Homo sapiens: one gene and its partners. The protein of the gene in region 3 interacts with the protein of the main gene of each other region in a pairwise test. Each region holds a gene or a part of one and is shown on either strand. Other genes may lie near its edges.

What was found.
Region 1: the proteins of ENTPD3 (region 3) and CREB3L1 interact in binary tests that used the Homo sapiens proteins (3 or more experiments, as listed by UniProt).
Region 2: the proteins of ENTPD3 (region 3) and GPA33 interact in binary tests that used the Homo sapiens proteins (3 or more experiments, as listed by UniProt).
Region 4: the proteins of ENTPD3 (region 3) and STX2 interact in binary tests that used the Homo sapiens proteins (3 or more experiments, as listed by UniProt).

The regions. Positions count from the first base shown.
Region 1 is NC_000011.10:46,280,637-46,287,661, reverse strand, and holds part of CREB3L1 (cyclic AMP-responsive element-binding protein 3-like protein 1), read right to left. Parts: intron 1-7,025.
Region 2 is NC_000001.11:167,052,367-167,059,391, forward strand, and holds the end of GPA33 (cell surface A33 antigen precursor), read right to left. Parts: intron 6,062-7,025; exon of another isoform or gene 5,941-6,061; intron 3,484-5,940; coding exon 3,364-3,483; intron 2,746-3,363; coding exon 2,610-2,745; intron 2,101-2,609; coding exon 1,968-2,100; 3' UTR 470-1,967; downstream 1-469. UniProt on the Homo sapiens protein: May play a role in cell-cell recognition and signaling.
Region 3 is NC_000003.12:40,382,368-40,390,192, forward strand, and holds the start of ENTPD3 (ectonucleoside triphosphate diphosphohydrolase 3), read left to right. Parts: upstream 1-4,816; 5' UTR 4,817-4,894; exon of another isoform or gene 4,895-5,024; intron 5,025-5,678; 5' UTR 5,679-5,690; coding exon 5,691-5,730; intron 5,731-7,825. UniProt on the Homo sapiens protein: Has a threefold preference for the hydrolysis of ATP over ADP.
Region 4 is NC_000012.12:130,829,229-130,836,253, reverse strand, and holds part of STX2 (syntaxin-2), read left to right. Parts: intron 1-2,111; exon of another isoform or gene 2,112-2,262; coding exon of another isoform or gene 2,263-2,388; intron 2,389-7,025.

The DNA of each region.
Region 1 (7,025 bases), on a different chromosome or scaffold from region 3:
CAAAATATCTCATGTGCCCCATAAATATCTAACCTACTATGTACCCACAAAAATTAAAAATTGTCCAGGTGTGGTGACTTATGCCTGTAATCTTAGCACTTTGGGAGCCAAGGAGGGAGGATCGCTTGAGCTCAGGAGTTCAAGACCAGCCTGGGCAACATGGCAAAAAAAACATCTTTACAAAAAATACAAAAAATTAGCCAGACATGGTGGTATGTCCCTGTAGTCCTAGCTACTCAGGGGTTTGAGGTGAGAGGATCACTTGAGTCCGGGAGGTTGAGGCTGCAGTGAACTGTGTTTGTGCCACTACACTCCAGCCTGGGCAACAGAGTGAGACCCTGTCTCAAAAAAAAATTTAAAAACCAAAACAATAAAAACAGCAGTGGCAACTATTGTTTATAGAGGGTTTATGGTGTACCAGGCCCTCTGCAAGAATTTCTAATGGAATTCTCTTAAGAACCCTATGTTTTACCATGAACCCTACTTTTGGATGAGGAAAATAAGCTTGGAGAGGTTAAAGCACCTGCCCAAGCTCACACAGGTGACAAGTGGGAGGCCCCAGGTCTAAGCAGTGCTGAAGACGTCCCGCCTCAGGCAAGGATCACTTCCCCAGCACTTGCCTCATCATCTGCCATCTGACCTGTGGACCCACTGTCTGCACACGTTGAGCCTGGGAGTACGCACCTGGGAAGTCTTGGGACTTTCCTGTTTAAAATCTCCCCAGAGTGGGGTGGATTCAGGGTCTACAGCTCACCTCTGTCCCAAACTCATGCAGCTTTGAGAGACCAAGATATTCAGAACCGAGTGTGTTTTCTTTTCTTTTTCTTTCTTCTTTCTTTCTTTTTCTTTTTTCTTTTTGTTTGTCTGTTTGTTTTTTGAGACAGAGTCTTGTTCTGTTGCCCAGGCTGGAGTGCAGTGGTTCAATCTCGGCTCACTGCAACCTCCGCCTCCTGGGTTCAAGCAGTTCTCCTGCCTCAGCCTCCTGAGTAGCTGGGATTACAGGCTCCCGCCACCACGCCTGGCTAATTTTTGTATTTTTAGTAGAGACGGGGTTTCACCATGTTGGCCAGGCTGGTCTCAAACTACTGACCCGCCTCAGCCTCCCAAAGTGCTGGGATTACAGGCATGAGCCACCATGCCCGGCCCTGAGTCTGATTCTTAAGCTGGGTAAGTTTCCATGTATTAATTTTATTATACTTTATAACTGATAGATATACAGTCTATATATTCTACCAGTGCACAAGATATCATAATAGAAAAGGCCATGATGATAAAGTGAAAGGGAGAGATGGCATTTATGCTAACATTCACGATTTGAGTAATCAAATGAGTGAACGAATGAAGCAATCTACTTTAAAAAAGAGGGCCATCAAAGCTGGAAGTGTAGAAGTGTCCTTTCTTTTACTATCTATCCACCCACCTATTCATTCCTCTATCGTCCCCACCCTACTCCATCCTGCCTTCCTTCCATCCATCCAATAAATAAACATTTCCTGAGCACTCAGTCATTATAGCTGTACCTAGGGAATAGCCGCAAATAATTGACTGACACACCCTGCTCTCAAGGAGCCCTCAGTTTAGTTCAGAAATGAGGAGGCCAAGGCCCAGAAAGGGAAAGTGATTTGCCCAGGGTCACACAGCAAGTGAGGGAAATGAGGTAAAGAAGGGTGAGGGTATTCCAGGTGGAGGGGAACCCATGGGCAAAGGCTCAGACCTGTCTGCCTCCAAAGCGAGCCCCTGTCAATCACTGCCTGAAACCCGCCTCCTGGCTCTCCATGAAGGCCTGAAGAGCCTGCCTCACTCCATCGCTACTTTCATTTTTGTTATTCTTTTGGAAGGGGAGGAGGAGCCAGTGGCTGCTGCTGTCCAGCTGTTATGTCGGACCGCACATCCCAGCCCAGATGTGTCAAACTCTCTGTGATGGGTGAAGTGGCTTCTGGGCCACGAGCCACGAGCCAACGGCCAAGGAAGCGGCAGTGAAGGCTCTGTCCCAGGGGAATTAGGGGAGGAGGCACACTGAACCCGGCGGCAGGGAAGCCCATGGTTGCTCCAGCTATCAAACTGGCCTTGTAGACAATATGGTGTGTCTAGGTGGTGGGGATCAAGATCTTTGACATTCCAAAGAAATCAATACCTTTGACATATTTCCTCTGAGGGTCAGAGTCCTGGGGCATTTCCTGCCTCTCCCAGCTTCTCCTGAACCAGACAATCCCACCCCCACACATTCCCCAATCCTGGTCCAGGGTCCTGCCATTCAGTCTGGCTTCCCCAGGGCTGCTCAAGAGGGTTACACAGAGTTCCAGCTCACAGTCTTGACTTAACTCCACCCAAATATTCCTCCTCCATCCTGCCCCCAGGAGTGCTGAGACTTCCAGAGAAACAGCCTGTTCTCCAGCATCTGGAGCTGGTTTCTTGAGGGAGGTTCAAGGGCAAGCCAGGTTCCAGAGAGAGATGCTCCAGGAGGGCCTCGGTACCAGGACTCGCACGAGGCACATGATACAGGGAGAAGACACAAAACAGGGATGTCCTTTATGCTCCCCTCTCCTGGTGCAGTAGCCAGGCCAGGCCAGGGCAGACAGAAACAGAGTCTCCTGAGGAGTCCTGGGAGCTGCAGAGAGCAAAGATCCAAGTCCCCAGAAGGGCTGGGGAACAGCATCCTGGGGGTGAATCTGATAGGGTGTGAAATGGGATGTGGGAGCTTATTCAGGGGATCTGGTTTTGCCCATAAAGCTCTAGGCATCCAAGGTGCCCTAAGGATGGGAGTGGGTGAGGATGAAGACAGGGACCCTGTGATATGAAAGATCCTGAATTTTCCTTGCTCTAGAGGGGAAATCTCAAACTAGAACAATGAGAGAACTTGCTTGTAGCTTCTTCTTGCTCCCCTCTTTGACTCTCCATAGGACTCCTGCCCTTGAGCAGAGTGCACAATGGATAATAATGCCTATACGTGTTCAGTAAAAGGAACATGGCCCCAGTCCCTGTGGAAATGCCTTTTTTTTTTTTTTTGGAGATGGAGTTTTGCCCTTGTTGCCCAGACTGGAGTGCAATGGTGCGATCTTGGCTCACTGCAATCTCCACCTCCTGGGTTCAAGCGATTCTCCTGGCTCAGCCTCCCAAGTAGCTGGGATTACAGGCACATGCCACCATGCCTGGCTAATTTTTTTGGTATTTTTAGTAGAGATGGGGTTTCACCATGTTGGTCAGGCTGGTCTCAAACTCCTGAACTCAGGTGATCCACCTGCCTCAGCCTCCCAAAGTGTTGGTATTATGGGCATGAGCTACCATGCCTGGCCAGAAAAGCCTTCTAATAACTCCTTTGCCACTAAGGAAGAGGGAAATTGGGGCAGCATGTGCAGAGATCACCTTCTGAGAAAGCTTTCATGACCTGTAGCCTGGCTCAGCCTCCTGCCATGCTCTGCTCCATCATGGCGCCCACCATGGTGTTGATACTGCCTATTTCCCTCTCTGTCTCTCTCATTCGTCCGCGATTGACTGGAGGGTCAAGTGTGTTTTCTTCATCTGGGTTACCCTGGCACCAGCATAGATGTTCCTTCAGTGCCCAGTTGCTGAAGGAATGGACATGTGTATTAATGAATGAGCAAGTGAATTCCCAGCTGGTCCAGGGAAGCCGGAGGGACCTCACAACATATCGGGGCACAGACAGCACTTCTGTGGGACCCAGCATCCCCACCACCCTAAGGGATGGCCAGTCCAGGATCCTGAAAACCCCAGGATCCCTTCAGGAATCATAAGTACACCTCTTGAACACTTAGATCTGATTTTTTGGGTCTTGCTCTGTTGCCCAGGCTGGAGTGCAGTGGCGTGATAATAGCTCACTGCAGCCTTGAACTCCTGGGCTCAAGTGATCATCCCACATCAGTCTCCTAAGCAGCCAGGACTTCAGGTATGTGCCACCATGCCTGGATAATTTATTTTTTATTTTTTGTAGAGACGGAGTCTTTCTGTGTTGCCCAGGCTGGTCTCAAACTCTTGGCCTCAAGTGATCCCCCTGCCTCCGCCTCCCAAAGTACTGGAATTACAGGTGTGAGCCACCACATCCAGCCTGGGATTTTTTTAAAACAATTTTTCCCTTCCCTTACAAGGATTGCCCCAGTCTAAAGTAATTTTCTCTACAAATATAGTAAGTCCTTGAAATAGAGCAAAGTTCACTACAATGTGACCCAAACTTGACTTCTGTTCTATGCTCAGGCCCCTTCTCAAATAAAAGTGAGCAAAACTCCATTCTCTATGGGGCTGGTAAAAAAAAGTGACTGCCTCATGCTCCTGTGGTACTCTTTCTGTTTGGTCTGCTTTGTGCAGTAAGGTGTCACAATTTTTACTTTCCTGCTTTTTGTGATAGTACAGACCATCTGAAAAATACTGTTTTTCGTTAATTCTACAAAAATATTACTCCACATTTTATGTAATTGGAAAATTTATTTTTAAATTTGTATTATTATTATTACTTTTAGAGACAGGGTCTGGCTTTGTTGCCCAGGCTGGAGTGCAGTGATGCCATTATGGCTCACTGCAGTCCCAACCTCCCCAGCCCAAGTGATCCTCCCTCCTCAGCCTCCTAAGTGGCTGGGACCACAGGCATATGCCACCATGCCCGGCTCATTTTTTTTTTATTTTTTGTAGAGACGAGGTCTCCCTATGTTGCCCAGACTGGTCTTGAACTCCTGGGCTCAAGCAATCCTCCTACCTTGGTCTCCCAAAGCATTGAGATTACAAGCATGAGTCACCGCAAAGGAACATAATTGGAAATTTTTGACTGGGCATATTTATTGCATTATTGTAGAATTTTACTACATTGAGCATCTATTTTGTCCCATGTGACTGTGCTAGGTTTATGTCAATGCACAAAACTGATATGGACTCTCCTCTTATGGAACTTACTTTCTCGTGGAGGAAATAGACAATAGGCCATTAAAATAATTGCAAACTGGGTTAAGGGCTAGAAGATATCAAAAGACTAAAACAGAAAAGAACAGGGGGGTCCCACTTTAGGTAGTCAGGGAGCGTTCCCTAAGGAGGCAATATTTGAGCTGGGATCAGAAGGCTGAGATGGACAGACTGGGGGAAAAGCAGTCCAGATGACAGGAACAGCATGTGCAAGGGCTCTGAGGCAGGGCTGGAAAAGGCTTAGTCTTAAATTGGGTGAGTATGGATCCAGGAGTCCTAGAGCAATCTGAAGAAGAAACTGGGGAAAACGGAAGCCCTAGAGACAGTGCTCAAGAGTGACACCTGAGCCACAAGTTCAAATCCCCTGTGGGTCAGCCAGCTGTAGACTATTCTAGACCAGGGGCTGCAGAGGCCTGTGCAGTAGGGGGATGGCTCAAGGTAATGAGAACTCATTAAAAACCATGGAGAGCCCTTCCTGGACCCCAGAGACAGTGCAGGGTCTGCAGGACCTCGATGGCTGCAAATAGATGGGCTTAAGGACACTTTTCCCTCTTCTCTAAGAATGTGGGGTCTGGTTTGGGCCCCTTTTTCTTCATCCATCCATCCATTCATTCATCCATCCATCGATTTATTCATTCATCAACGGTTGTTAGGCACTGGGATACAGCAGTGAACAAGACAGACCAAGCCCCTGACTCAAGGAACTGTTCCCTCAACACTGGGGGAAGCAAAACCCAAATCAAACCTCTGCTCAAAACGAACTTAATGTTTTGATAGAGTAGGTATCAGAGGTCTCCTTTCTGAATAGGCACCCTGAGATTTGGGCTCCTCCAGTAGGTTTTTCATTAGATCTTTTCTAGCAGATTGCACTCTGAGACCAGAGTGCCTTAGCACTTCTGTCCTCTTTCCTGTTGGTGAGAACTTAAACAGAAACACACACAAATCTCCCCTTTTAAGGACTGTTAAAGGCCCACCCACAGACATAGGAACACCCAAACACACATACTTCTCTAATCTCCCTAAATCTCCCGAAGGCTGGGGGTGGGGGTGCCTCTCTGCTTCCCAGTTAGCTCAGGAGAAGCCAGGCTAGGCGTGTGGGGAGTAGCGATCAGCCTTAGCCCCCACCGCCTCCCCGCAATGCTGGGCTGGTCCCTGGGTCCCCGTCACTCCCACACCTGGCCTCCCCAGCTGCAGGGAGTAAACGGGTGTGCTGGGCAAACATCCTTGCAGCTTCCTGCTGCTCCCCTCTGAGAAAACAGACCTTTTCTTCCTCCTCCTTCTCCTCCCCACACCCTCCCAGCTGGGGCTTCTCTGGGATCCCAAGCCAGTTCCCTCTAGAGAAGCCAGACATCCCTTCCCCTTAGCCAGAGGAAGGAGGGGACAGCACACAGACCTAGTGTTTCCATCTGGAGAAACGACCTGCTCTCCCTCTGGTCCTTTATCCCAGTTCTTGGAGCCCAGACCCTCTCTCTCATACTGGCCAAGGGGCTGAAGGACCACAGAGTACAGTGGCTCAAGGGTGGCCACATCAGAAACCATGGGAGAGCGGGAGGGGCAGGGAGGAGATGCCCCCACATGGGACAGGAAGGGCAGCCCCCTTCTGAGGATCTCTGAGAATCGCATAAACAGAATTGCAGCAACATGAAGGTATCCTCATAGAAAGAAAAATAAGGCAGCCCAGCCACCTCCAAACACACTTGTCTTGACTTTGTGTACTCACTCTCCTGTCTGTCCAAGTGCATGCGTATTTCTTGCATAGTTGTTTTCAGGGTGAGCATACATTTTGCATTTTGCACAGAGCAACAGAGCACACATGATTTCCACATGATTTATGGCCCGTATCTGGATTTTTAAGGAGGATAGCGAATATTCTGCTCTCCATTTTCCAGACTGAGAGGCACACAGACGCCATCCCTACCCATCCTTAACCCTGGAAACATTTTCCTATCCTCATGCAGAATGAAGAAGTTGGGGGAAGGGTTGGAATGGGATCTCAGCTGGAAAGAACCTCGGATATGGAGATGGAGACCCCAGAGAAGGAAAGTGACTTGCTATGTTCACACAGCAACTCGTAGCTGAGCAATTCTCACTATCACGCCCATCCAGTCTCTATGGATCAA
Region 2 (7,025 bases), on a different chromosome or scaffold from region 3:
CTGAAGAACAGACCTTGAATATCTCGCAGGAGAGTCCATGTCAAAGCCAAGAGCCCACAGCGGAGCGAAGTTGCCTTGGAGGAGGAAGCGTCACAGTTCTCTGTGACAGAACAAGAGGACTGCCCCGCCCCTTTCTCAGAAGGGGCATCATAGGAAGCAGAACTGGCTAGAGCATCTCCACCATCTTCCTTCAAGCACGTGGACCGACACCCAGGCCTCCTGGTGTCCTGACACTGCAGACTCCTGGAATATACCTCCACCAGCAGGCAGGAATCTGTCCTATTCCCAGCAACCACTAGAGGCACTGCCTGACCCTACTGCGGCCACAAGCAGAGGGACCCCAGGATTCTCAAATCTGTTACCTTGTCTCACCTCCCCTAGGAAGCAGAAGAGTGCTATGGTGAGTAGAGATGATCCATGAGACCCAAGCTTTATCTTACTGCAAACAAAATCCACATTAAAAAAGAAATAAGAATTTCCACCCACAATTTTATTATTACTGAAAGCATTTGGAATGAAGCAAAGGATTTAACAATATATATAAAAATATACATTTTTTAAAAAATCGCAAGTAGACAATAGATTTATGGAATTATTTTTCTGATCATCCAGAAAAGATAGCAATAGTAAACTGCAGTTGGGTGAGACCAGCCACTGGTCCATGAGACCTAAGCAGCCCTAACGCTGCCTGAGCTCTCAAGAGTAGAAGAAATGCTCGACAAACAGAAGGAGGCTGTGGGAGGGCAGCAGGACAGCCCCACCAGAAAACCAGAGCCCAAATGGGCTGGGCAGGGCCAGGGCTGAGGTATCGGGATGCAGGAACAACCAGGAACCCCATGTGGGTTGAGGAGACATGCCAATTATTCTGGCCTGGAGAGGAATTACCAGGACACAAGAACTCAGACCATCTGCAAGCAAGCTCCCTTGTGTGTGTTCACTTTAAATCAATTCGTGTTTAACTCACTGAATGAATACGTGGGTTTGGGTGGGAATCATCCCTGTGTCTACGATCATCTCAAGGAGACCAGAGAAGGGAAGGCACAACCAATCAAAGCAGTTTCCCCAATTAAGCTTAAGTGCCCACTAGGATGGGCGCCAGCTACTAGGGCTTCAGGGAAAGCAAAAGCCATGAGGCCCAGGCCCTGCCCCAAGGAGCTGGCGCTCTAATACAGTGAGAGCACTCGCTCAGAAGACTGTGCCTTGTGGCCCATGATTGGACGTGGGACAGAGTAACAGGATTGTTTCCACGTATGTGGACAATTAGGATAGGGTTAGAGAAATCCTTGTGATTTGAGATGGGCCTGGAGGGACAGGTACGATATTGACAGGCAGAGATGGAAAGTGTGTGGGCAAAAGCTCCCCAGGGCCTGTGCAGCAGGAGTGGGAGGTGGCCTTCCCAGGAGGGTTTGGAACATACTGGCAGCTACGGGAAGTGAGGTTGGAAAGGGAGTGGGAGCTGGAGGCCAGGCCAATGCAGGGCCCAAGCATACTCACTTATTCTTTCATTCATTCAAGAAAGATGTGTGGAGTGCAAACCCTCCACCTGGTGCCCCTCCAGGTGCTGGGCACACAGGTGAGCAGGACAGCCCCCACCCCCCAAGGCTGGCATCGCCTCCCTGGAGAGTTCTGAGTGGGAGCGCCCCATGCTCAGCGCTGTGCTTCCAGGAGCTCCTGCCAACTACGAGGGAAGTGGAGGCTGCAGCCTGGTCTTGAGTGAGGGCCAGGCCCGCACCAGGTGTCACAGCCAGGAGGGGTTACTTCACAGGACAGTGAGGTCAGCAGGATCAGCACAGGGACCCCCTTACCAGGCCAGCCATGTTCCCCACAGCTGACACTGGGGAAGAAATGTCCCCATCAATGTCTGGGATGGAGGGACAGGAGAACAGGGCTTAGAAAGGAGAAGGGAGGCCAGGAAGCGGGAGAATGAACCCCTAACCCTTCCTCCGCCGCCCTCTGCTGCTGGCCTGTCACTGGTCGAGGTGGTCCGGGGATTCACGCCCAGTGCTCCTCTGCTCTTCTTGCCTGTAGTCATCCTCCTCCTCCCTCTCTCTGGAAAGTTCTCTTAGCTGCTCTGGTGGCTCCTCATAGGCTTCCCGGTTCCTGCAGGGCAGCAGGGGACAGAGGGGAAGGATTTGCTCTCAGGTGGACCCTCAAGGGAGCTGGGCCTCATGTGCATTACAGGAAGAGCAGCCTCCAGACCTCCTCCCCACCCACCAGCTGCAGAGGACACTGGGCTGAAAGGCTGGGCTGAGAGTAAAGGTGCCACAGACTTGTTCCACGCATGAGCTGAGGGGGTTACAGGAACAGGCTGGCTTTACCAGCCCAGGAGGAACTGGCCCCGTGACAGGGGCTCCAGGCCACACTTGGCTCTAGTCATGCCACAGGAAGCCCGGCCCTGAGCTCCCAGACTGGAAAACCACAGGACTGGGAGGCAGGTCCTGGGGCTGCAATGCACATTTTATGGCTTGGACAGGTCATTGTTTCATCAGCACAAAATGGGGGTGATATACCCCAAGGGGTGCTGCAAGTAGAAGAGGCTGTGAGGAATTGGGAAGCATATTTCCAGTCTCCCCAGACCCTTCCAACAGGCTACCAGCCCAGACACTCACGGCCTTGCATCCTCCTTGTCTTCAGTGTTGTCGTCCTTCCCTCGGCAGCAGCAGCAGTAGATGATGATGCCAATGATAATGAGGGCTGCAACCACGCCCACCGCGATGCCCACATACAGGGCCACGTTCATGGAGGCTGCAAGAGGACAGAGCAGCTGCACTTGCCGAGCTTCTAAGCTAGCTCCGGGTCTCCTCCCAGCCAGGGGAGCAGCAGCTACCAGCTTCTGGTAACACTCCATGAAAGGCATGGTCTTGGAGGAATGTGACCAGCCATGGCCCAGGAATATTCTTCAGGATGGAGGTGCAGACAGAGACATATGGTCCACTTCACATCTTAACACTTTCCGGGCTACCCTGGCTCTGCAAAAGTCCTCAGATGTCAGCCCAGCCAGCTCTTTAAGCTAGATTTGGTGTCTCACCCCAGAAGGATGTGGTCCAGACTCTGCGGCAGCTGCCCTGGGCACTTCCTCCACGCCCACCGAGTGGTTCCTAGGCAGGTGGGACTGACAAAGCCTCTGAGTCCTAGAAGTCAGTCCTAGGTTCCACTTCCAAACACCAGTGGAACTGGACTGGCCTCAGAGTGAGGGGAGCCTGGGACAGAGTCATCCTGCCTAGGTCACCACAGCTAACCTGCAGGTGCGTGGCCCTAGAGAGGTTCCCCTATTCCTCCTCACGGTGGTCTCAGCTGACTTTCTGGACCCCCACCAGTTATCCTGTGGCGTTTGTCAGCCCTCCCCCCGCAGGCTGCTCTTACGAGATCTGACGGCCACCGTGATGTTGCAGAACTGCGTCCCCTCCTCATTGCTGGAGGTACAGATGTAGTAACCCGATGTGTCTGTGGAGATATTCTTCAGGGAGACAGGCTGACCTGAGGCTGCAGGGGAAGAAGAGTCAGGGTGAAGAGAGGCACTACAGTGGAGTGGAGACAGCCAGGAATGGGAGGTCTGGACTCCTTGGGAAGCACAACCTCTGCCACTGAGCTTCTTCAGGCCGGAGCCCCATGTCCACCTCCAGGGCTGCAGGACGCTTAAACCAGGCAGGGCCCACAATGTGAAGTGCTCAGAATTCAGTCAGGCACCCTGGGTTTGACACCTGGCTCTGCCACTTATTAATTTGTCTTTAGCAAGTAACTCAGCTTCATTCAACCTCCATTTCCTCATCTAAAATCAGAAATAATAGTACCTGCCTCACAGGGTACTTGCAAGCATAAAATGAGGTACTAATAATAAATATAAGCCCACAACAGAATGCCTGATATGTAGTAAGTGCTCAGGAAACATAATGCACATTATGTATTACATGAAAATGCTTTCTAATCAGAAGATATTATTACTTTTATGATCTTCAGAAACCAAATCTCTTAGCTTAGACTCATATGAAAGAAGCCTTTGGAAATCAAAAACTCTGATCTCTGGATTTCTGCCATGAGAGAGGTGTGTGGGGTGTATGTGTGTGTGTGTGTCTGTGTGTTATGTGGTGTGTGTGGTGTGTCAGTGTGTGTGGTGTGTCAGTGTGTGTGGTGTGTGGTGTGTCAGTGATGTGCAGCGTGTGTGTGCTGTGCTCTGTGAGAGTAGTGTGTGTATGGTATGTGGTGTGTGTGGCATATGTGTGGTATGTGTGTATGTGGTGTGTGTAGTGTGTGTGGTGAGTGTGTGATGTGTGTGGTGTGTGTAGTGTGTGTGGTACGGTGAGTGTGTGATGTGTCTGGTGTGTGGTGGGTGTGTGGTGTGTGTAGTGTGTGTGTAGTGTGTGATGTATGTGGTGTGTGTGGTGTGTGTATGGCGTGTGTGTGGTGTGTGTGGCATGTGTAGTGTGGTGCGTGTGGTGTGGTGTGTATGTGGCAGCGTTTGTAGTGTGTGTGGTGAGTGTGTAATGTGTGTGGTGTGTGTGTGGTGTGTGGTGTGTGTGGTGTGTGTAGTGTGTGTGCTGCATGTGGTGTGTGTGGTGTGTACTGTGTGTGGTGTGTGTGGCGTGTGTAGTATGTGTGGTGTGCAGTGTGTGATGTGTGGTGTGTGGTGGGTGTAATGTGTGTGGTGTGTGATGTGTGGTGTGTGTTGCATGTGTAGTGTGTGTGGTATGGGGGGTGGTGAATGTGTGTGCTGTTGGGGTGGGACGGAGGCAGACTGTCTAGACTCTTCCTCTACATCTGCCGCCACTTGAGCAAGCCATTTAACTTCTTTGAGCTGTAGGCTTCCTTCGGAAAGCAGGAGTGAAAACACCTGATCCTCCTGAATCGAAGAGAACGGACCAGAATATCTCATGGAAGACCTTTCCCCTCAATCTATCATCCTATGAATTTCTTCATCTTGAAAGCAAGAGCTTTGTGCTTGGGCATATGTATATGTCCTGCCATCCAAGATGCTTTGTTATAACTGCTATTTTGAGAGGAGCTGGAGACCTACCTCCTCTAATTTTGCTGCAGAGCCAGCCTTGCCTGATCCCTGCTGCCACCAGGTGGTTACACGCCATCCCTAAGAGACGCTCTAAATTGTAAATACGATCCTGTCACTGCTCTGTTCAGACATTTCAGGGGCTGCCCAGCAACCACTAGACGTAATCCTCAGTAACAAGTCCAAGCTTCAGGTCACAGATCTGGCCCTGTCAATCATACCAGCTTTGCCTCTTGCCACTTGGTGCTAGGGGCAAAACCAGGGGAGTTGTCCTCTCTCCGCCCCACCGTCACTTTCCTGCAAGATTGCATCTCAAGATTTTCCTTCTCCGGATGTGCTGCTCAGTACACATCCTCAAATGTGATGTCCTTTCATCCTTCCAGCAATCCTCAATATTTCAATCTCCAATTCATGGAGTTAACTGGAGGCTTAAAGAAGTTAAGTGAACTGCTCAAGGTCACAAAATTAAGAAATTATAAAACAGGAACAAAAATCCTGTTTCAGGTCTAGAACTCCCTGGAGCCATTGATAATTTTCTTTTAAAAATTTGTGGCCGGGTACATTGGCTCACGCCTGTAATCCCAGCACCTTGGGAGGCCAAGGCGGGCAGATCACTTGAGGTCAGGAGTTCGAGACCAGCCTGACTAACACAGTGAAACCCCGTCTCTACTACAAATATAAAAATTAGCCGGGCATGGTGGTGTGCGCCTCTAGTCCCAGGTACTTGGGAGGCTGAGGCAAAAGAATCGCTTGAACCTGGGTGGTGGAGGTTACAGTGAGCTGAGATCGCACCACTGCACTCCAGCCTGAGTAACAAAGCGAGATTCCATCTCGAAAAAAATATGTATAAAAATAAAATTTTGTATGATAAAAGCAATGTATGCTCCTTATAATAATTTATAAATGATATAAAACTATTATTTCAATTCAATTCAATACAGAAAATCTTTAGCTGCTGATCACAGCTATAAACGAGATGAGGAGGGTCCCTGTCCTCTTGGTGTTTCCAGTCTCCCAAAGAAGACAGACATGAAACAATGATGGTTACAGTTCAAGATGGAGGTACTATCTGAGCTTATGGCAAGGGGTTTTAATCTCATCCAAAGGGCCAAGGAATGCCTCTTTAAAGAAGAGAGAACAAATAAAAATCATTCATAATTCCATCACCTATAAATAACACTTTGATTTGGTGCTATTTTCTTTCAGTCTTTTCACTTGTACTTTCTTCAAATTCTTCCCTTGACCCCCAGGACACTACTCTCTGGATGCTCATTCTTCATAAAATGTGTCCCCTTCTATCCTAGAATTCCACGCCTCAGTATGTTTTCTGGAACATTGTTTACATGTGATATTAACATGCGGCATGGAGAAGGAGTCCCTAAAAAAGCAAGTTTAGGAATCACTGAGTTAGGATTAAGTAATCTTTCTAAGGGCAGCACTTTCAGAGCTCCTACAATGCTGTTGAGCACTGGGAACTTCTGACAGCGGGGTGTGGTATTCATGCTCTCATTTGCTAAATGAATCGGATTTGTTATTTTTAAGAGGCATCTTGAAGGAACACACTTTAGGAAATGCTCTATGGCCCTGGGCATACTTAGGAGGTCTAGAGCTCATAACAGATCCCCACCACTTAAGAGTGTGAAGCTCGGACTCTGGATTTAGTGTAGGCAGCACACTGCAGACAGTCAGGACTTTTTTAGTTGTCAGAGTCCAGCTTTGAGCTCTAGGCCTTGTTTAGGGTGGGGAACATGGGGTTTCCTAGTCCAATGAGTCAGCGCTATCCTCCCCCAGTTCCCTGATGCAAACCGTGTGCACTGGAAGCTGCTGGGATGAACCAGTGCAGGTCTTGTGCCACAGGACCTTCTTTGATTCCGAGTTGGGGCTCCCAAGCCCCTTTTCCTTCGGAAAGGGACTAGTAATTTCTGATATCCGGAGAAAACTAATGTTTCCGCTGCAGTGGCGACACCTTGTGGTCAGAAAGGGGAATGCACAGGACGGTCATACGCTTCCCACCTTCCTCTGCTCC
Region 3 (7,825 bases):
TGTAAGAAAAGCATGATTTCTGCTTGCACGTGGTTTACTGTCTAGTGGACAGAGAAAGACTAACGAGAGAATTCCTGTTATGAAAGGCAGTTGTGCACAGCTTCTCACCCCCTGCATCGTTACATAAGAGCAGCCTTGGGCCTGGAACATTTTCTTGCACAGAGATAAAGAGTCATCATAGCCTGTGCTAGGCACATCTCTGCTTTGTAATAACTTTCCCCGTTCCGGGTTTCACGTGTACTTCTTTGTTCTTAAGCGCATGGGTCAATGGCCATCAAGTGCACCTCCAGCTTTCTATAGTTCTGGCCCCAGGGGGATGGGTTGAGGATCTTCACCTGCAGCAACAGAGCAGTGTATGCATTCCATCTCCCTGCATCAGCTAGAGGTCAAGACCCACTGCCATGGGGGCACACAGTCATCACTGAAGCTAATCCTGTTCCATCTCTTCTCTATATGAGTAAAGTGTTTTCCATCCAGTGCCTGTGTGAATCATCTTTCTTGGTGACATGGACATCTCCAAACCATACAGTAAGTTAACATCCTGGGACTGCTGCTTTGGTGATAAGCAACAGGGGTCATTTGCTCAACAACGACTGTAATGAAACTCTAGCTGAAAGAAAGGAATGCCTGCTTTAAAAGCACATAATTTAGGGACTTGACCCAGTTTGGATGTATGATCCAGATTAGGGGATGCCGGGGAAGTATCAGTGAAATGACTGAAGTGAGAAAAAAAGTATAAACAAGTGCTAATTAGTAAAATAATGTACAAAGGTCCTATGGCAGGAGTAAACATGATATATTTGAAAAACTGAAAGAAGGCTGGTTTGTCTTCAGAGCATGAAGTAAGAAGTAGTATGGGTTAATAGAGACTGGAAAGAGAGATAGAGAATATACCTTGCAGGGCCTTCCAGGTCACATTGAGAATCTGATTGTGAATCCACTAAGAAATGGACAGCATAGAAGAGTGTTTTACAGAGAGTTTTGACACAGAGAGATCTGGGTTTTGAAGAGATGGGGCCTGTTGGCTTGGGAAAATGGATCAGAGAGGAAGAAAATGGACACAGAGAGATGTGTGAGACCGTTGCCAAGATCCAGAAAAGTGTGCATGGTAGCTTAGACCAGTGGTTCTCACCAGGGAAATTTTACTCCTCTGAGGACACTTGGCAATGTCTTGAGACATTCTTGGTTGTCACACCATGTGTGGGAGGATGTTACTGGCAACTAGTAGGGAAAGGTCAAGGATGCTACTAAACATCCTACAATATACAGGGCAGTTCCCTCAACAATCATCTGACCTGAAATATCAATAGTGCTCCAACTGAGAAATCCTGGCTCAGACCAAGATGGTGGCTGAGAGAGAAGGAAGTACATATTGCAGAGACGATTAAGAGGCTAAAATCAGCAGTAATTAGTGACTGATTGATCGTGTATAATGGGGGAAAGACTATCAAAGGCAACCCTCAGGTTTCTGGCTTGCTCACCTGGATGAGTGGGGAGTGCCGAGATGAGAAATGCTTGAGGAGTTGATGGTTTGGTAGGGGAAGATAAGGAGCTCTGCTTGAAACCCTGTAAATGTGAGGTGCCTATATGACACTTGAAAGATGAAAAACACAATTCTCTAGGTCTACAGATCAAGAGGGGAAGCCTGAACCCTGTATTTGAGAGCTTCTGTGAATAAAACAGAAGACGTAGGCATGGATGAGATTACCTAGGAAAAGAATACAGAATGAGAAGAAAATAATCCTGGAGACTGAGTCTTGAGAAACTCCCAGGAAAGGAGCAGGAACCAGCAAAATTGTCTAGAGAAGTGGGAGGACATGGCACGCATCAGATGCTTCAAGAGGGCCTGTTTCCTGGCACCTTCTCCAACACAAGCACCACTGATTATTATTGCTATTTTTTTTTGAGACAGGGTCTTGCTCTATAGTCCAGGCTAGAGTGCAGTGGCATGATCTCAGCATCTCAGCTCACTGCAGCCTCCACCTCCCAGATTCAAGTAATTCTCGTGCCTCAGCCTCCTGAGTAGCTGGGACAGGCATGCACCACCACACCTGGCTAATTTTTGTATTTTTTGGTAGAGACGGGGTTTCACCATTTTGGCCAGGCTGGCCTTGAACTCATGACCTCAGGTGATCAGCTGACCTCGGCCTCCCAGAGTGCTAGGATTACATGCGTGAGCCCCTGTGCCTGGCCTAGATCTTTTTAAACTTTGCTAAGCTAATCAAGTCTAATCAGTTTTTTTTTAATCTTGTTTAAATATACCAAAGTTTTAGTTGACAATTTTTGGTAAATAATGAGATTAAGCATCTCTGCCATGTTAGTCAGCCATTCATATTTCTTTTGTAAATTGGCCAATGCATGTGACTTGCCCATTTTCTATTTCAGATATTCATATTTTTCTATAGACTTTAGTATATCTTACGGTTTTAAACTCTTTACTGTCACATTCTTAGGTATTTCCTGAGAATTTATCTTTTTTTTGGTGGGGGGGGGTTGCAGTGGGTGGTGTCTTTCTATTCAGTCATTTTTCATTTTCATGGATTCAAATTTGTTGACTTTATTTCTCTTCCTGCTTTGACTGCATAGTAGAAGAGACTGTTCTTTCCCAAGGATGATAAAAATGTTCTTCTACATTTTTTAGTATGTCAAATTATTTTATACATTTAAATTTTTAAACCACCTAAAATCTATTTTTGTGGGTGATGAGTAATTAGAATCCTTTTCCAAATGAGCCAGTTGTTTCAATACCAGTTATTGAATAATATGTTATTTCAACCTGTTCTTTATCTTATAATCCTATATCCAATAGTCTGTTGTGGCCTATCTTTTTTGTTCTTTAGATCTCTCAGTATATTCCTGTGCCCAAGCCAGGCTGTTTTTATTACTGTGGCTTTACAATATGTTTTGATAGCTGGTGGGCAAATCTGTATTATTTTATAATCAGGAAAACTCACAAAGGAGTGTGTGTGTGTGTCTGTGTGTGTGTGTGTTCTTGCATGTGGAAGGTGGATGAGGAAATGCCTTTGAATGACTAGGTCTACTTTGGAAGCTGCAAAGGAGTTTGACACAGTGCCTGGAGCAGAGTTTCCAGAAAAGCTTGGAAAAATAAAAGGAGAATTGGAGACTACAGGGCTCTCAAAGGAGGCTGATGCTCACACTTACAAGGTCTGTAGGTTGATGCAAGCAGAGAGGAAAGCTGGCATGGACTGATCTCTGTTATTTTTATACACTAGCACTAACTGCCTTTCAAGGCCCATTAGGCCTGGAAACCTTTTCCCAGCCCCTGGGAAGTCACTGGGGATGCTAAGGTTAGTCATTCACCCACTGGGGCTATCTAACTGAGCTCAGGTCCGGGTGCACTGCCAGCAGCTGTTTGTGTACTTACAGCCCCCTGGGTGCAGACGGACCCCCAGCTGCCAGCCATATGCCTTATGTTTCATTGTCCCACAGCTTTCAAAGAAAACAAGTCTTTTAATTCAGCAAGTATTCACTGAATGTCTGACACCCCCAGTGCAGACCCTGTCCCAATCCCCCAATGGGGTCCACCTCTATCCAACTCTGGGTGAATGACCATGGTGCTCTTGCGCGCGGGCACACACACACACACACACACACACACACACACACACACACAGGCACACACACATAACTCAGGCTTGGGGCCCACCTCTCTGGGCTCAGAGGTATCAAAGCAGGGGCATTCCTATCTTAAGGACTTCTTGTCTTAGGGGCTTTGGCCCCACCTGCACAGGACAGAAAATTAGTGGATTTCTAGGAGAAAGCAGGCTATGGCAGGGTATAGCCAGGGACTCAGCTCTTCCTTCCAGACATGCAGGAACCATAAGGAGGGATGGTCAAACAGGGCCTGCTTAGGCCTCTTGCTGGGATCACTCCAAGGGTCTCTGGGGTCACTCAGAGGAGCCGGGAGGCTGCCTGCTGCTGTACACTGAGACAGACTCCTGGGGTGTTTGGATCACGGCAGCCCACATGCTGCCTTTTTGTTATCTTTTCTGTTTTGCCTCTTCCGGGCTGTACTTGTCTTGAGTTTTTGGCCTTATGACATCCATATTAAATGGGGTAGGGCAGAGCATTGCTCAGTAAACAGCAAGAATGGCCCTGGGCATGGCCAAGGCAGTTCTGCTAAGTGTGAAAGGGAATGTGCCTGCCATACTTTGTGCTTTAGGCCCAAGTGACCTAGGGGCCAGCCTGCCTACTGGCCTCACTCCCAACATTACAGGTGTTTGACTCTACTCCACCCCGTGGAGAGACGGAGCACAGGAGCCACCCACCGGGGGACCACATAAGGTCATGCACACCCACAGAGTGCCCAGTCCCTGCCTGGCCTTGTCCCCATTTTCCCTCCACCTAGGGTTGGGGTGACAATGGAGGTAACTAGAAGACAGATCAAAAGGTTCTTGGTCTTGACACAGATGCAAGAAGGAGGCAGATAATAGACACCTCCCTTCCCCCTCGCCCACATAGGCTCCGGTGGGTTCTCAGGGCAAGGCCTGGCTCCCTCCTCTCCGACTTCAGGTACAGGTGAGTGTGGAGGGAACTGAAAGAGGAAAGGTGAAGTGCTGTTTGGCTTCGACCTGGAGGGGGACAGAAGGCTCTCTGGGCAGGCAGGGCCGGTCTTTTGGCAAGAGGCGCGCTCTCTCTCCCTTCCCCTTCCATCGAGGGCTGGGTGTGAAGGTGAGAGCAATCAGAAAAGAAGGTGAAGAGGTACTTGGCCTTGACACGGACGGGGGGGGCGGTCCCAGGCCGAGGCCGCCCCGCCCCCGCCCCGCTATACCCGGCGCCGCCTCCCGGCGTCTGAGCTGACACCTCCTTAGCGCTGGCCGCGGGCCGCCTCTGCGGCAGCGCTAGTCGCCTTCTCCGAATCGGCTCCGCACAGGTAAGATCAGGGGACCCGGCGCCTGAGCTGCCGAGGAAGGAGTCGGGGGTGCTGCGTGAGACTGAGAGTTGGGAGGCAAAGAAACAAAATCGGATTTCCTCAGAGGGCCAGAGGAAGAGACTGAAACACGGTAGCCCCAAATCCTTGGGCGGCTGGGAGGTGGTCCCTGTCATGCCCACGACGGGTGGGCGCGTCTTTACCGACAGCCTGCATGGATCCGCAGATGTGCTGGGCGCTTAGATGCCTGCGGCTATGCAGAGACGCAGTCCAGAGAGGTGACCCCAGATCCTGGTGGGGGCTGGATCCCAGGGCCCCGACATCCCTTTGCAATTTCCAGCCAGCAGCTAAAGACTCCCTTCCCGGGGCTTTAGAGAGGCTCCAGGCTCGCGATCCATGAACACACAAAAACCTTCCTTGCTCATGTTCTGAAAAAAAGCCCCGCCTCAGCTTTGTGAATGTTAATAATAGGGGGAAGATTTGTTCTCTCTTGGGTGTGTGTACAGGTGGAACAATCTGCAGAAAAAGACCTTTTTTCGGAAAACCTTTTCAGTTTGAAGTTTCAGCAAATCCATTTTTCATTTCCTTTCATTTGGGGAGATGACATGAAATTTAAGCTCCAGCTTTGGGGCTGTCTCTGAAGTTCTGGGGTTCGGCTTACCTTTCCCGGGATGAGGTTTTGATTTGGAGGAAGTAAAATGGGTTTTGTCTTAACCTGGGCTCGTTCTTTAAACTTGTGAGGCCGGGGCGGTGGACTTACTGACATCCTGTATTCTCTCACCTGCAGCTAGGAGAAAAGATGTTCACTGTGCTGACCCGCCAACCATGTGAGCAAGCAGGTTAGTATCTCTCAGCAGGTAGCAAGCGTGGTTTTGCCAAATCGCAAGAGAACCCCAGCTTCGGCCTACAGTTTTTCATCCATATCCCCTGCAAATGATTGTTTAACTTTATTGGTTTGAGACTCAGTACTCAGCTGGGTTTCAACACCGGCATTCCTCAAATAAAAGTAATGCTTTTCATCAAAGCCACACAAAACAAGGACTAACATGCATGTTTCACTTAAATGGTTTTTCCGGTTTGTATAATCCATTAATTTGGCCCTTGTGGTTTCCCTTAGCTAGCTGTGTGTAACGTTTGCTTTAGAATACTGTATTGTTGATTTTGTGATCAATTGTACAGTACTTGGATCTTTCCTGTATTCCCATCCAAATGTTGCTGGCACAGTGCCTACAACACCCCCACCCCTCACTGTGAGTCAGTGTTGTTATGGTTGATACTGCAGGCACAAGTGCAGGATTTTCTCACACTGGAAGGCACACACACACAGACACACACACACACACACACACACACACACACACACACACTTCTAAGCTTGCCCCGCCTGCCTCTAGAGCACTTTTTGGAGTTGCTCATGTGGAAGCCCAGAAGGCTCTGGCTTCTCCAAGCTCAGGTAGGTACCTTGCAATTACCATGTTTGTCCAGCCCTAATGACAGCACAGCTCTAGGCTGCATTTCCTAAATGAGTAAGACCTGGTCTCATCCATTTTGCTTTGTAATAAGCTTTTCTGCAAGGACAAGAGTTTGCTTAAGGTAATCATAGCTTTTTACTTGAAAACTGCTGAAACACAGAAGACTTAGGAGGCCAGCCACGTAGCTGTGGTCAGGAAACTGCATACATATCACACACTCCTCCCCCATGGATAGACATTCTTTAGTCATGCCCCTAAATTGGGTATTCTTGTCTTCCAAAAGGATATGATTTTAGGATAGTAAGGGCAATCTATATGAACTTTTATTTTTGTAAAGGGACATTGCACTTGAGGAGCTGTTTTCCTTTGATCTTTAGGTTTTCCCCCAAAACACTTTGAAATGTTAACACAGATTGTAACGTCACTCATACAGACTAACCTGTTACATTCCTTCCAAAGGACAAGTTTAACTTGGCAGATTAAATTTCTACCCCATTTTGTTAGAGGGAAAAAATCCCTTAAACTTCTATAACTAACACTGACAAATGCATTCTTTGAAAGCTAATGCAAAAGTTTGCCTCTGTGGATTAACTGGTTCCTGTACTTTTATTTGGAATCACAGAAAAGTGATACAGGACCTCTTTACATGCTCTGCAGGTCAACTCCATGGCAGTTGGCTCTCCTTTCCATTGCTATTACCCACAATTCTGTAATGAGTAACCTTGTGTCTAAGTCATTTTACACATGTGGAGCTAGTTCTGTGGGATAACTTCCCAAAAGAGTGATTGTGAGTCAGATGGCATGCTTATTTGCAGTTTTCATAAATATTGACAAGTTGCCCTCCATTGATGCTGTACCAGTTTACACTTTCAATGACAAGGTAGGAGGATTAAGGTGTTAAGTGACCAACTTTGACACCAAGAAGTGTCTGTGACTGCAGCTACACTGCAGGGGAATCAGTTGAGATGGAAAGAGTTAGCTGTTCTGAGCCATGAAGACCTACTGCGTGACTGCCCTCCTGTAGCAAATGTTGTGATGTGACTGAATTTGGGGGCTGAATCTAATTATATCGTGGGCGCATAGACATGCCCTGTTATTCTTCTGGGAAAATGGCTTACAGAAATAATGGAGGGGTAAAGCATAGGTTATAATGATCTAGGAATAATGTTCTGGAATAAGACAGGATCTATCCAATTGCTGTTCAATTGATCTTCCTATAATGATGAAAATGTTATATGGCTGCACTGTCCAATATAGTAGCCACTAGCCCACATGTGGTTATTGAACACTGGAAATGTGGCTAGTAAGATTGAGAGACTGCATTTTTTTATTTTAATTAATTTACATTTAGATAGCCAATTGATTAGATATATATTGGAATTCGATGAATCTAGTGATCTTTCTATTAGTGTTCATCATATTTCAACCATTTGGTTGTCATTTATGTTGATGTCCCAATAGT
Region 4 (7,025 bases), on a different chromosome or scaffold from region 3:
GTATAAAATAGTAAGTTAAAACTGAATTTGAAGTTTAATAACTTTTAATATTTAAAAACCCATCTTAAAGTTACCAGATACAAGTTTAATTCCCCTCCCCCGCCCCGCCCCAGGAAATGTGTCCTTTCCCAGTAGTTCTTAGAGTAGTTGAATGTGTACTCACAACCGTGCTTGTAAATGGCTGGTGTTTTTTTCTAGGTAAAGTTGAATATTTTGTTGGTTAAAATGCCTCATCAACAATGTCTGATTAACAAAGTATTTGTGATGCTTCCATGAAGTTTCTTTTCTTAGCTGCTGATGCTTGTTCCTGTGAAGAACGTGCCTCTGACAGTTACGTGGACAGGGCTTAAAGAGTAATCTGCTCAATACAATCTGTACTGACAGATGTAGTTTCTAACCAGTGATGCTGTTTTTGAGCAACCAGTCATTTGGGCATAGAAAGTTTGCGTGACTTGGTCCAGATCTCTGACACTCTAAATCCAGAAAGATATTTCTGATTTACAGAAAGTAAAAGACTCGCCCATCCAGCAGGTACTTGAATGTCAGGCCTCTAGCAGATCATGTGCTGGGTGCAGAGAGACACAGCAGTGAACTGAGCGTGGGTGGGGATGCATGCAGCCTGGGAAGGAAGAGTGACCGAGGTGTAATGAAATTCACTGTAGGACGTAAGCAAAATGGAATAGCTATTCTATAAGATAACCACCCCAAACGTATTTTGATTACTTTTTAAAAAAAGTTTATGAACATTGATGTATTTATATTTGATACATATATATGATATATCTATTTATTATAGTGAAGAATAGAGAAACCACACATTTCATCTGTGGGAATTGTTTGCATGATAATAAACAATAAATACACAGTAGCTGTGTGGTGTTCTTAGTAGACCTAAAAGAAATGAGAACGTTATTTTTCATCCTGGTTTCAAGGTGATGAATTGCAAATCTCTTTTTTTTTTCTTTGAGACAGGATCTCACTGTGTCGCCCAGGCTGGAGTGCAGGGGCACGATCATTACTCATTGCACCCTTGACCTCCCAGGCGCAAGCCATCCTCCCGCCTCAGCTTCCTGAGTAGCTAGGACCACAGGCGCGTGCCGCTGCACCCAGCAAACTTCTGTATTTTTTATAGAGATGGGGTTGCGCTGTGTTGCCCAGGCTGGTCTTCAACTCTTGAGCTCAAGCAATCTGCCCACCTTAGGCTCCCAAAGTGCTGGGATTTCAGGCGTGAGCCACCGTGCCTGGCCTGCAAATATAATTTCTTAAAGGGCGGAAAACACTGCTCAGATATTTTTAAAAGTTATTTTTTGACAGCTCATGTTTGTCCACGTAGTGCAGAATGTTGTATAGTGAAGATGCAGGTTCCAATTCATAAAATAAGAAGATTAAAAAACTTCACTGGAACTTAAAATACTAAGAGTTTAATATATGAACATAATTTTATATATGCATATATTTATAGTTTAGAATGTCATAACTTATGCAATCCTGCCAAATTTTTATATTTTGTGTGTTCTCATACAAACAGTTCCTACAGTTGGAGTCTATAGTTTCTCTATTCTTAATTATAATAGGTTTACTCATTTGTATATCTAAACATGTCCTTTAGTTTGAAGAGCAAAATCTATATGTTTTTACAGATTAATCACTTCTTGTTTTTAACTTGAGGTCTATTCTGAATTTAAGGAGTAGCAACTGTAAGAAATAACTGATCCATAGAAGAGCTCCCTAGGAGCCCAGATCTATCGCCTTGTGGTGGCAGGATTTGCTCCTGCCTCCGGACTGATACGCCCCTCCTCCCTGCCCTTGCAGGTGCTGCTCCCTTTGTCTGAACCACTGGACTTCTCCCTCTGCGCCTTCTCTCTTGCCTTGTACCTTTTTTTTTTTTTTTTTTTTTGAGACAGAGTGTCGCTTTCTTGCCCAGGGTGGAGTGCAATGGTGCAATCTCAGTTCACTGCATCCTCCGCCTCTAGGGTTCAAGGAATTCTCCCGCCTCAGCCTCCCATGACACCCAGCTGATTTTTGTATTTTTAGTAGAAGTGGAGTTTCACCACATTGGCCAGGCTGGTCTCGAACTCCCGACCTCAGGTGATCCACCCGCCTCGGCCTCCCAAAGTGCTGGGATTACAGGCGTGAGCCACCACATGTAGCCTTGCACCTTTTTTAGTCTCAGGTTAGGCATCACTGGGAAGCCTTCCTGCCTCCCTTTCCTCGCATGTTCCCACAGATGGCCCATCTTGTCTTGGGGCATTCTGGACACAGATGCAGTCCTGTTTTTTCCTGCACCCTTCCCCCAGTGCTTCAGCCTTTTCAGGACAGATGCATACTGTCATTTGTGCTCTGAAGCCTCAGTATTCTGCATGGTGCCTGATCCAGAGCACCTGCCAGGTATTTATTGAATCAGTCTGTTTCCATTTGAAAATGCCCATGGTAAGAAAAATGTAGATGCCACTGGAATCTGTTGTCTTCAAGGCCTTTTGGTTAAAAGGGACAGAAACCCATCAGCTAAAGCAGAAAAGGGAGATTTATTAAAAGGCAGAATGGGCTGGGTGGGGTGGCTCACGCCTGTAATCCCACTACTTTGGGAGTCCAAGGTGGAAGGATCACTTGAGGTCAGGAGTTCTAGATCAGCCTGGCCAACAGGGGGAAACCTCGTCTCTACTAAAGATGCAAAAATTAATTGGGGGTGGTGGTAGGTGCCTGTAATCTCTGCTATTTGGGAAGCTGAGGTGAGAGAATAGCTGGAACCTGGGAAGTGGAGGTTGCAGTAAGCCAAGATCCTGCCACTGCACTCTAGCCTGGCTAACAGAGTGGGAATCCATCTCAAAAAAAAAAAAAAAAAAGGTAGAGTGATTTCTCCCAGGCTTTGAGGGCACGTAGTACCATCAGCCCTCATGAGGGATGGAGTTAGGACGGAGCGAGCCACTGAGGTCCTTCCTGTCCTTGTGTCGTGGCCGTTTTGTGCTTGCGGGGTCTTAGTCTGTGTGTGTGTCTCTGTTTCCGTTTGTTGACGTTTGTCATTTGTGTGTACTTTCCCACTCTCCTCCCCCTTGTCTGTGTCTGCCCTTCTCTTGCTCTTCATTCATTCATTCACTCGTTTGTTGACCTGGTCATCACTGACTGGCGGCTGGGTGCCAGGCACTGCTGTGGGCAGAATGCCTGGGTTGTGAAAAGACAGAAGTCCTTGCTCTTGTGGAACCTGCAGCTGGGAGATAGACAGCAGCTGAGCAGATGAATCAAGTGTCTTTCGCAATCCTTGCTGTGAAGGAATAAGCAGGGCGAGGGTGTGGGTGTGGCTGCCTTGGCCGGGTGGGTCAGGGGGCCACCCCGTGAGCTGAGCTGTGGATAAGAAAGCGGCTGTGGACAGGGCTGGGGGAGGGTGCCCTGGGTAGAAGGCACAGCAAGTCCAGAGGCCCAGAGTTGGGAACGAAGTCATGCAAGGGACAGAAAGATGCTGTCGGTAGTGAGTGGATGGTCAGCAGTGGGCGGAGGTGAGACGTGAGTGAGCTGAGGAGGTTGGCTGGAGCGAGATCCTGAGGGTTTCTCTTCGTCTCCACGGCCTGGTGTAAGGGGCTGCCCCCGCCCCCAAGTTTAAATGCTCTCTAGTTCACGCTCTCTAGGCTTCATCATGTCAGTTCTGATCCTCATTCCTGGGGCGAGATCATGTGGTGGGCCCTTGGTAGCTCAAGATTAGCCTGGCAGTGTCTCATGTCCATGTGCCATGCTGGGGGCATCCAATTTATTGCAAGTGCTTTGGAGAGCAATTTGGCATTGTTTAGTGAAGCTGAAGACGCTTAAACCCCATGGCTCGGTGGTCCTCTCTCTGCATGTGTGTGTATGTTCCAGAAAACCATCCTGACATGCATGTGCAGCCTTGTAACTGTGGTTCGTTATATTGTTGGTAATGGAAAAATATTAGGCACAATAGGAGCCTGGATGGCTACCTCATGGCTGTTTATATAATGGAGTGTATGCAGCAGTAAGATGAATGTATGAGGTTGAACCATATGGTGTGGTTTCACCTAACACTAGAGCAATATATGCTGAGTGGAGAAATATGAATGTATAGCTGAGAGGAAAAAAAAAAATGATTAAATTGCAGAGGCAGGCCGGGTGTAGTCGCTCATGCCTGTAATACCAGCACGTGGGGAGACCAAGGTGGGAGGATTGGTTGGGCCAAGAAGTTCAAGGCCAGCCTGGGCCACATGGCCAGACCTCATCTCTAAAAAAATATGTGTGCCTGTAGTCCCAGTTACTCAGGAGGCTGAGGCAAAGGGATCACCTGAGCCCAGGAGGTTGAAGCTGTTGTGAACTGTGATCACGCTACTGCACTCCAGCCTGGGTGACAGAGCAAGACCCTGATTCCAAAAAAAAAAAAAAAAAAAAATTGCAGAAGTGTAATACTATTTACATAAAGTCTAAATGCCTGTTAAAAAGTATTTATATAATAATAATGGAAACAAGTGTTAGTAAAAATACAAAAAAATAAAAAAGTATAACATTTTATTATAGGTATAAAAGTGTAATTCACCATACAAAATATGAGAAAGTAGGTTACGTTTAGCACCATATTTACAAACTGGCCCAGAGTCAGCATTTACATATTTATTTATTTGTTTTTTGAGACAAAGTCCCTCTCTATCGCCAGGCTGGAGTGGCACCATCACTGCTCACTACAGCCTCAGTCTCCTGGCTCAAGGGATCCTCACAAGTGTGAGCCACCACGCCTGGCTAATTTTTGTATTTTTTGTACCAAAAATGGGGTATCACCATGTTGCCCAGGCTGGTCTCAAACTCTGGAGCTTAAGTGATCCTCCCAGTTAAGCCTCCCAAAGTGCTGGGATTACAGGCATGAGCTGCCGCACCCGGCCAGCTTTTACCTATGTTTAATTACAAGTATTCTTTTCTTTTTTTACCCAAGTGATTTAATTGTGAAAAGTAAGTCAAAGTATTCTAGCAACAAAGTACTAAAACCACTGTGTATATGTCAAGGTTTATAATTTATTTGCCCACAATTATTATTTGTATGGAAGGTCCTTAGCATGTGTGTGTGAACAACAGGCAGAAGAAAGCCAGGATTCTGTCCAGCTTTGGATTCTGCCATTTGTGGTAGTTCAGCTTCTATTGAATTATAAATGATGATCGTTCCAATGGCAAATTACTCTTCTCTGTTAAATAGTCTCTAAACCAGGAAGCTACCTGCTACCTGTTTCTGACAATAGTATTCACACAGGGAGAGTTGTGATTTTACTATAATGCTACTTTTAAGGAGACTTCTGTTAACATTTAACCGAAATGGAATGTTGATATTTAAATGTTTATCCTGTACTTCGACACTTGGGAAATCAAGTATGTCATATAGAGAGTATTCCCTGGCTTTTAGTAAATGTTTGCCACTAGCAGTTTGGTTATTTACAATAAATACCCTCTCATAATCATGGCTGTTGTACAGCTGTTGCACTATCTCAGCCTGAAAGACTGAACATGGACATTCATTGAAGACAAGAATAATGTAGCTTAGGGATAAAGCCAAAAAGATTGCTTTGGTCATTTTGTTTTGTTTTGTTTTTTTGAATGGAAAAGCAAAGACAGTATTATTGGGTCTGTTTCCTGTTATCTAATCAGTTTTGAGACTTCCAGGTAGAAATAAGACATATAAGTCAAGGCTTAAGAATAAGAAATAAGACAATAGAGGAAACATATTCCAGTCATGTGGATCTTTCCTGGTCTACAGGGAGAGAAACAAATTGTTTACCAGCAAGCGAATGACTTGGAACAAAAATCCGCCCGTGCCGTGGGTTCAGAGTGGAGGAGGATTGACGCCACGCCACTGTGGGGGGTGCATCGCGCAGCATGGGACGGTCACCATGGGAGAGGAGGGTTGAGCCTCTGGTTGTTTACGCCACGCCACTGTGGGGGGTGCATCACACAGCATGGGACGGTCACCATGGGAAAGCAGCTTGCTTTCACAGGGAAGCGTGGCGCTGGGGAGCATTGAGATGGGTGCAGCCTCTTTCCTGGAGCTGCAGGTGCAGCCTCCACAGTAGCATCTGCCTCATGGGATTTGCCTCACGATGGTCTTGTGGTGTGGGGGGTAGGAAGTAGTGGGAAGTGGTGGGTGTCCACCTGAAACAAGACAGGCTGTGGCTTGACCATTGTTGAGCCTGGGTGATGGCGACACTGAGGGCTCACCATAGTATTCCTTCTACTTTTGTATATGTTTACAGTTTCCCAAACAAACAAAAATGAGGTGACTTTGAATCTAGAACCTAAAGTTCCTGGCAGAGCAGGGAGGTGTGAGATGCCCTGAGAGCCATGTGGCACCTCCAGGGTGGGGTGAAGCACTTTTATGGCCCGGGGCTCAGGGCCACAAGGGCCGTCTGCAGCTCACTTTCAGCTCTCCACCCCTCCTCCCCACCCCCTCCATGGGTATTTGGGTGAATGCACAGTCAGTCAATGACTTAAAGCGGTGATGCTTCACTCCATCATTCCTGGCCCTGCGCCTCTGAGACCGCACAGCTGAGAAGACAAGGCAGATAGCCATAGGGAAGCAGTGAGACCCCGTGCCCAGCTAGTGGGATTTAATGCCCAAGTGAGCACTTGGAGACAGGGAGGGAGCAGGCTGTGGGCCCGAGAGGCGGGGCTGGCACGCACAGGGGAGTAGATCCTCTTTCTAAGAGAGGGGGTCCCCCGCAAGGGGAGTCTGTGGGACCTGGCCACCTGGCCTGCATGGCTGGTGGGGCTCCGCAGCACAGCTCCTCCCCGCATCCCATCTTCCCCCAGGGTAGAGTGTGCTTGTTAGAGCAGGGTGTGTGGAATCACAGTCACAGGCCGTTTTCTGCTCTGCCGTCCCTGCGAGTGATCCCTGCACTGTGTTTCAGCCTCCTCACTGGCAACATGGGGACCATAAAATTAATGAGAACATGTGTGTAGAGTATTTCAAATTGCCAACTCTTGTGAGCTGGAAGTAAAGGACGGCTCTTACTCTTTTTAAGAGGGTCAACATGGTAATAGTACAGTTGTTA